Homo sapiens: one gene and its partner. The protein of the gene in region 1 purifies or fractionates together with the protein of each later gene. This does not show direct contact. Each region holds a gene or a part of one and is shown on either strand. Other genes may lie near its edges. The genes, in order: SPTBN2 and CDK5RAP2.

What was found.
Region 2: the proteins of SPTBN2 (region 1) and CDK5RAP2 purify together in Homo sapiens (co-immunoprecipitation; one large-scale study listed by IntAct). This does not show direct contact.

The regions. Positions count from the first base shown.
Region 1 is NC_000011.10:66,701,429-66,705,240, reverse strand, and holds part of SPTBN2 (spectrin beta chain, non-erythrocytic 2), read left to right. Parts: coding exon 1-643; intron 644-3,519; coding exon 3,520-3,657; intron 3,658-3,812. UniProt on the Homo sapiens protein: Probably plays an important role in neuronal membrane skeleton.
Region 2 is NC_000009.12:120,402,127-120,405,938, reverse strand, and holds part of CDK5RAP2 (CDK5 regulatory subunit-associated protein 2), read left to right. Parts: intron 1-1,825; coding exon 1,826-1,903; intron 1,904-2,867; coding exon 2,868-3,133; intron 3,134-3,812. UniProt on the Homo sapiens protein: Potential regulator of CDK5 activity via its interaction with CDK5R1. Negative regulator of centriole disengagement (licensing) which maintains centriole engagement and cohesion. Involved in regulation of mitotic spindle orientation.

The DNA of each region.
Region 1 (3,812 bases):
TGCTCAACAAGCACACAGCCCTGCGGGGCGAGATGAGCGGCCGGCTGGGGCCCCTGAAGCTCACCCTGGAGCAGGGCCAGCAGTTGGTGGCCGAGGGTCACCCTGGGGCAAGCCAGGCCTCTGCCCGTGCAGCTGAACTCCAAGCCCAGTGGGAGCGGCTAGAGGCCCTGGCCGAGGAGCGTGCCCAGCGGCTGGCCCAAGCCGCCAGCCTCTACCAGTTCCAGGCCGATGCAAACGACATGGAGGCCTGGTTGGTTGACGCACTGCGCCTGGTGTCCAGCCCCGAGCTGGGGCACGACGAGTTCTCCACGCAGGCTCTAGCCAGGCAGCATCGGGCCCTGGAGGAGGAGATTCGAAGCCACCGGCCAACCCTGGACGCCTTGAGGGAACAGGCAGCAGCCCTGCCCCCCACACTGAGCCGCACGCCCGAGGTGCAGAGCCGGGTGCCCACCCTGGAGCGGCACTACGAGGAGCTGCAGGCCCGGGCAGGCGAGCGAGCGCGGGCCTTGGAGGCAGCCCTGGCGCTCTACACCATGCTCAGCGAGGCCGGGGCCTGTGGACTCTGGGTGGAGGAGAAGGAGCAGTGGCTCAACGGGCTGGCCCTGCCTGAACGCCTGGAGGACCTGGAGGTCGTGCAGCAGAGGTAGGCCCCTCAGGCTCCTAGTGGGACCAGCCTTGGGAGGTGGGGGTGGGGGGGCCAGGATGTGGGTGGTGAGTCCCTCCATAAACTTCCTGCCTCACCCCTTTGAGTCTTAATGGTTGTCCATTTCTAGTTTTAACAAAAAATGTTAACCATACTCACAAGTAGAGACATTTCACCACAAACCCCTCTACACCCGTCACCCAGATTCAGTCATTGCCAACATCTTGCTCTATTTGGTTCTCTGCCCTTTTAAAAAGCAAATCCCCAAGATTAGCACATCCCTCCTACCTTCTTCAGGGTGTGCCCTTTAAGAAATACAAGGAAGCGGCCGGGCACGGTGGCTCACACCTGTAATCCCAGCACTTTGGGAGGCCGAGGCAGGCGGATCACGAGGTCAGGAGGTCGAGACCATCCTGGCTAACATGGTGAAACGCTGTCTCAACTAAAAATACAAAAAATTAGCCGGGCACAGTGGGGGGCGCCTGTAGTCCCAGCTACTCGGGAGGCTGAGGCAGGAGACTGGCATGAACCTGGGAGGCGGAGCTTGCAGTGAGCCGAGATCGTGCCACTGCTCTCCAGCCTTGGCGACAGAGCGAGACTGTCTCAAAAAAAAAAAAAAAAAAAAGAAAAGAAATACGAGGAAGCATTCTTACCTACAATATATTATTTTCAAATTGTCTGTGTGGACTTAAAATAGCTGAGGCTTTGAAGTTATAAACCTTTTAGACAGAGACACTAAAATAGTTTTATTTACAGAATAAATCTTCAAATCATTTATTCAATAATAAATCTTAAAAATTTTTTTATAGAACCACAATACCATTATCACATAGAACAAAATTAGGAATTTCTTTTTTTTTTGAGATGGAGTCTCACTCTGTCACCCAGGCTGGAGCGCAGTGGTGCGATCTCGGCTCACTGCATGCTCTGCCTCCCGGGTTCCAGCGATTCTCCTGCCTCAGCCTCCCAAGTAGCTGGGACTACAGGCACCCACCACCATGCCCAGCTAATTTTTTGTATTTTTTTATTAGTAGAGACAGGGTTTCACCATGTTAGCGAGGATGGTCTCGATCTCCTGACCTCGTGATCCACCCGGCTTGGCCTCCCAAAGTACTGGGATTACAGGCATGAGCCACTGCGCCGGGTCAGGAATTTCTTGATATGATCTATGATCAATGTGTAATCAAATTTCCTGGTGTTTAAAAAAATATAATTAGGTCAGGCCTGGTGGCTCACACCTGTAATCCCAGCACTTTGGGAGGCCAAGGCAGGAGTATCACTTGATTCCAAGAGTTCATAACCAGCCTGGGCAACATAGTGAGACTCCACCTCTACAAAATTTTTTTTTTAATTAGCCAGGCATGGTGGCAGGCGCCTGTAGTCCCAGCTACTGGGGAGGCTGAGGCAGGAGGATTGCTTGAGCCCAGAGGTCGAGGCTGCAGTGAGCTGAGATCGTGCCACTGCACTCCAACCTGGGTGACAGAGTAAGACCCTGTCTCAAAAAAATAAATAAAAATAAAAATGTAATTAAAGATTTTTTTTAGTTTTCAAGGTATCCTAATGTAGAGGTTAACAAACTGCAACCCTTGGGCCAAATCCAGCCTGCTGCCTGTTTCTGTAAATAAAGTTTTTTTTGGTTTTTTTTTTTTTTTTTTTTTTTGAGACGGAGTCTTGCTCTGTCCCCCAGGCTGGAGTGCAGTGGCACAATCTTGGCTCACTGCAAGCTCCGCCGCCCGGGTTCACGCCATTCTCCTGCCTCAGCCTCCCAAGTAGCTGGGACTACAGGCACCCGCCACCACACCTGGCTAATTTTTTGTATTTTTAGTAGAGACGAGGTTTCACCGTGTTAGCCAGGATGGTCTCGATCTCCTGACCTTGTGATCCACCCATCTCAGCCTCCCAAAGTGCTGGGATTACAGGCGTGAGCCACCATGCCCGGTCTGTAAATAAAGTTTTACTGGAACAGAGCTACACTCGCCCTTTTGCGTATTGCCCGTGGCTGCTTTCAGGCTACAGCAGCAGGGCTGAATAGTTGCCGCAGCAGCTGCATGGCTCACGAAGCCTATAATATTTACCATCAAGCCCTTCACAGAAAACATTTGCAGACCCTGCCCTATTAGAACATCAAATGTCGGCCAGGCGAGGTGGCTCACGCCTGTAATCCCAGCACTTTGGGAGGCCAAGGCGGGTGGAGCATGAGGTCAGGAGTTCAAGACCAGCCTGGCCAAGATAGTGAAACACCCGTCTCCACCAAAAATACAAAAATTAGCTAGGCTTGGTGGCGGGCACCTGTAATCCCAGCTATTCGGGAAGCGGAGGCAGAAAATTGCTTGAACCCGGGAGGCGGAGGTTGCAGTGAGTCGAGATTGCACCACTACACTCCAGCCTGGGTGACAGAGCGAGACTCCATCTCAAAAACAAAACATAAAATGTCCCTGGAAGAAGTTATCCTTCACATTTTCATCACTCAGACAAATATTTTTGGTTATTACTTCATTTTCTAACACATATTAGTGGGATGAGACCCAGATAGGCAGCTAAGGGGGAAGTCCCAGGAGGCTGAGCAGCTCTGATAAAGGGTTGGCCCCATGCCAGGGTCTAGTTTGACTTGTGTGTCTGTTCCTGACCTTTACCTTTCACCATCTTTTGAGCATTTCTAGCGATGACAGTTATTCTGCTTGTTTTGGGGGAGTTGTGGGTTCCTTCCTTGATGCACAGATACTATGAACCTCATAGGCTGAGAGGCAGAGAGACTCCTGCAGATAAGCCTCCTGGTGAAGGAGACACCCTCCTGGGTGTTTAAGAGAGGTGGACTTAGGTGGACTGGGCACATCGCTGCCTCCCACAATTCACGCCTGGCTCTTCCACCCTCTCAGGTTCGAGACCCTGGAGCCTGAAATGAACACCCTTGCAGCACAAATCACCGCGGTGAATGACATTGCCGAGCAGTTACTGAAGGCCAACCCCCCAGGCAAAGACCGCATTGTCAACACCCAGGAGCAGCTCAACCACAGGTGGGTTTGGGAGGGCAGGACCAGGAAACTGACAGAAAAATGAAGCAATGGGGATGGCAGTGAGAGGCAGGTTTTGTAGGGCCTGGAAGGGTGGCTACAAAGGAGGAAGCAAACCAGTCTGGAATATGTTGGGGAAGGAAAAAGGATGAAAGAGA
Region 2 (3,812 bases), on another chromosome or scaffold:
TTTATATTTTTCAAATTGGATTTTGTGTCATTGTGTGTCCTTTCTTTGTTTTTGCCCAATATTACATCATACATGTTCCCTGTGCTTTCACATGGGCTTCCTAATGATTGTTTGCAGGCTATTCTCAGTCACCAATCCATGACCCCGTTGATTTATTAAAGTGGTCTCTGATTTGGAGCCATAATAGACATCAATGTTAATATGCTTTTTGCTGTTAAATAATATTCTTAGGAGAAAACCCTACAAGGGGAACCTCATAAGTTTGGAAAGGTGCCATATTGCCACCTTCTAAATAGTCTGTACATCAGCAGTGTACAAAGGTAGTGGTTTTTGTGTGACCTCAGCATTGGGCATTACTATTTTCAACACGGGTCTGCACCTGGCCCTTTTTAAGGCTTTGAGGAGATGGGATTCAGGAACTTGTGGGGTAGGCTAGGGGAGTTTGAAGCAGGGAGAACAGTTCTGTGCTTGGGGTACCCAGGAAGGAGAGTTGGGTAGCTGAAGTGAGGAGGCCATCAAACAGCCTTTACCTGCTTTTGAAATTTGCCGAAAGCAGCCCTCATCATGCCTGGCAAGAGGCATCCAGGAGAGCATTCAGAATTCACAGTGCTGCCTCAGCAGAAAAGTTTTATAATTTCCTTGAGTCAAGATCAGAATTATAGGCAGCAGCATTTCTTCCTTTGCAAAAGACTTCTCAGGTCTGTATTTAAGTGCATCTGTTTTAAAAATTCTGTTCTAAAGGCTGATGTCTTTCACTGAGAGTGATTCCTCTTGGGGCCAGCTCTATGGAGCTGACCTCCTGGCTCCTTGGCCTTAGGAACTGTAGCACACCCCTGGGAAATGCTGGAGTGCAGTCAGCCCACCGCCCAGTGGTGCAGGAGCTCGGAAGGGGGATCCTAAGCCCTAGGCTTCCTTGCTCTGTGCCACTGACATGCTGGGTTATGCTGGACAGATCACTTTCTATCTCTGCCCCTTGGTCTCCCCTTCCATGAAATCTGAATTACAGTGTGTTTTGCCCACTGAGCTATTGAGTCCAATAGCTTTTCATATGTGAAAGTGCTTTCCAAATTATAACGTGTTGCACAGGTCATCTGTACAGCATCTATTGGTTTTGCCTCCTTACAGTGTTGCAAATACATCACCCCCCAGATCCTATTGTGGGTTACTCTCATCTCTAGCTTAGGTTAGTGTGGCAGCCTCCAGACTTACTCTTTCAGTACAAAATACAGACCTCAGCTTGACATTGCCTTGCCCAAAGCCCTTGAGTGGGCCCCTCAGTCCTCTTGGTTCTGGCCTTGCATTCTACTTTGTCCTTCCCTGCACCCGGGCCTTGGGTCTATGAACTGCTTATTTCTCCCTGAGCGATGATTCCACTCTTTGTCCCACTGTCTGCCTCTCACCTGCCCATTGTGCTGCCTGGCATTTCTTTCCCTCCTTCTTACCATAGGTCAGTCACAATCAGTCTTAAAACATAAGGTTTTAAAACGGGTATTAGCCTTTGGGAAGCCAAGTTGGGGGTAGTGCCCCTCACCTGAGCCCCAACAGCCTGTGTTTCCCTCCCTTGTCCTTGATCACACTAAAATAAAATTGCTTATTTACTTTTCTGCTGAGAGTTTTTCTAGGGAATGGACTGGGCCTGGTCACTCTGTCTCCCTGGTGTCCCACAAAGGTGGGCTTGGCAGGACAGAGGCCCAGTGAAGATTTGAAGGAATGCTGTGTGTGTATGGATAAGTGAATGTGAGGGGCTTGACTGTATTCTCTTTCAGTTCTCTCTTGAATGCTGACAACAGTGAAACTAACAGTTCTCGTGTTTTGCATTTTGTAGATGGTGACAAATATCCCATGGAAAGTGATAATTCATTTGATCTGTTTGATTCCTCCCAGGCAGTGACACCAAAATCAGGTACAAAGCTGAAGTCCAGGTAACTGTGGGAGCATTGGATGTGACAGTAAGACTTTTTAACTTGCAGAAAAGGGGGGTCCCTGGTCCCAACTCAGGAGGGTATTTGGTAAGGATTTGGGATTTCAAGTTCTCAGCATCCCCAGCTGGTGATCTTCTCCTTCAAGCCAGTTAATCCACTCCTAGGTGTTACCAAGGTTAGAACATCATTGGGTCCCTCTTGCCTTAGATTAAAATTGTGACCACCTTTGTGAGGCTTTCAAGGCCCTCCAGGATCCAGCTCCAGTGGGTCCGTCCAGCCTTATCCCTTAACCTGGTGTAGCCACACAGGGGTCACCATCCTGCAGACAGGCCCACACTTTCCTCTCACTGTGACTTTTAGACCCCCTTTGTCCCACTCTTTGCCGGTAGAAGTCCCGTTTCCTCAAGACTCATCATGAATACACATTTCTCTGTGACATGCCTTTGCTGCTGTCCTTGGTCAGAATGACTCATCATTCGTGTAATTCTTGCTACTTGCTCAATCCAGTTCAAATGCTGCTCCTTCTCAGAAGCCTTCCCTGTTCTCTCCCTCCCTGCACAGATAATTGTTTTTTCTGGCTCTGGCCCTTCATCACTCTGCTGTTGCACCTTCTGCAGTGTCTGTGTTCTGATCAGACTGTGGGCTACTGGAATGCAGGCACCAGCTTGAGTCATCCTTGTGAATCTGGGGTCTTCTGCCGAGTGGGTGGTTGATAAGTGTTGGTTGAGTTGACTTGAGCCTCTCCTACAAGATGACTCATAAGCCCAGTGTGGGGTAATATACAGAGGTCCAGGAGCGTGCCTCTTTTCCCCTCTGGGCTTGTGTTGGGTGGCATTTGGGCACGAGGGCCTCTTCTAGCCCTCCTAGCTAGCTTCAACATCATAAGCGTCTTGAACGCAGAGTGTTACCTGAAACAGATTTTACATCCTACTTCTCATTTTACAGTTTCAGAGACTCCTCCACTCTCTGGGAATGACACGGACTCCCTCTCCTGCGACAGTGGCAGTTCGGCAACTAGCACTCCGTGTGTGTCCCGCCTGGTCACTGGCCACCACCTGTGGGCCAGCAAGAATGGCCGCCATGTCCTGGGCCTGATTGAGGACTATGAGGCCCTGCTCAAACAGATCAGCCAGGGACAGAGGCTCCTTGCTGAAATGGACATTCAAACCCAAGAGGCTCCCAGCTCCACAAGTCAAGAGCTGGGAACAAAGGTAACCTGACCACAGAGCTGGGGGGCACAAGCTGCTCCCTGGGAGTGTCGGTGGAAGGGGGAGGGGAGTCAAATGGCGCAGTTGTCCTCATTAGGACCCTGAGAAGAGGGACCAGGAAGTGTGGCCTCAGAGAGCTCAGAGGTCAGGTCCAGTGTGGGGAACTATTGGTGGTGGCTGTGTTTGGTGGGGTTTGTGCCTTGTGTTCCTGCAACTGCTCCATGGGCTCTGCTGTCTTGTTCCCATGACGGCCTCTGTACATCTGGTCTCTCATCCATTCTTCTCTCCATCTGCACCCTGGTGTGTCTGTCCATTCATCTGCCCATCCACCTGGCTGTCGCCCATTATGAAGTGGAATTACTAGTTCAAAGGTTGTGAACTTTTTAGGGCTCTTGATGATAACTGTTGCTCCATTACTTTGCAAAACAATTCTATCTCTGTTCATGAACGTTTGTCTCACTACATTTTTGTTTTTGTTGAGGTTTTGTTGTTGTTGTGTTTTTTTTATTTTGAGACAGGATCTAGCTCTGTCACCCAGGCTGGAGTGCAGTGGCGCGATCATGGCTCACTGTAGCTTCGACCCCACCTCCTAGGCTCAAGCAATCCTCCTGCCTCAGCCTCCCAAGTAGCTGTGACCACAGGCGTGTGCCATCACACCTGGCTTTTAAAAAAAATTTTTTTT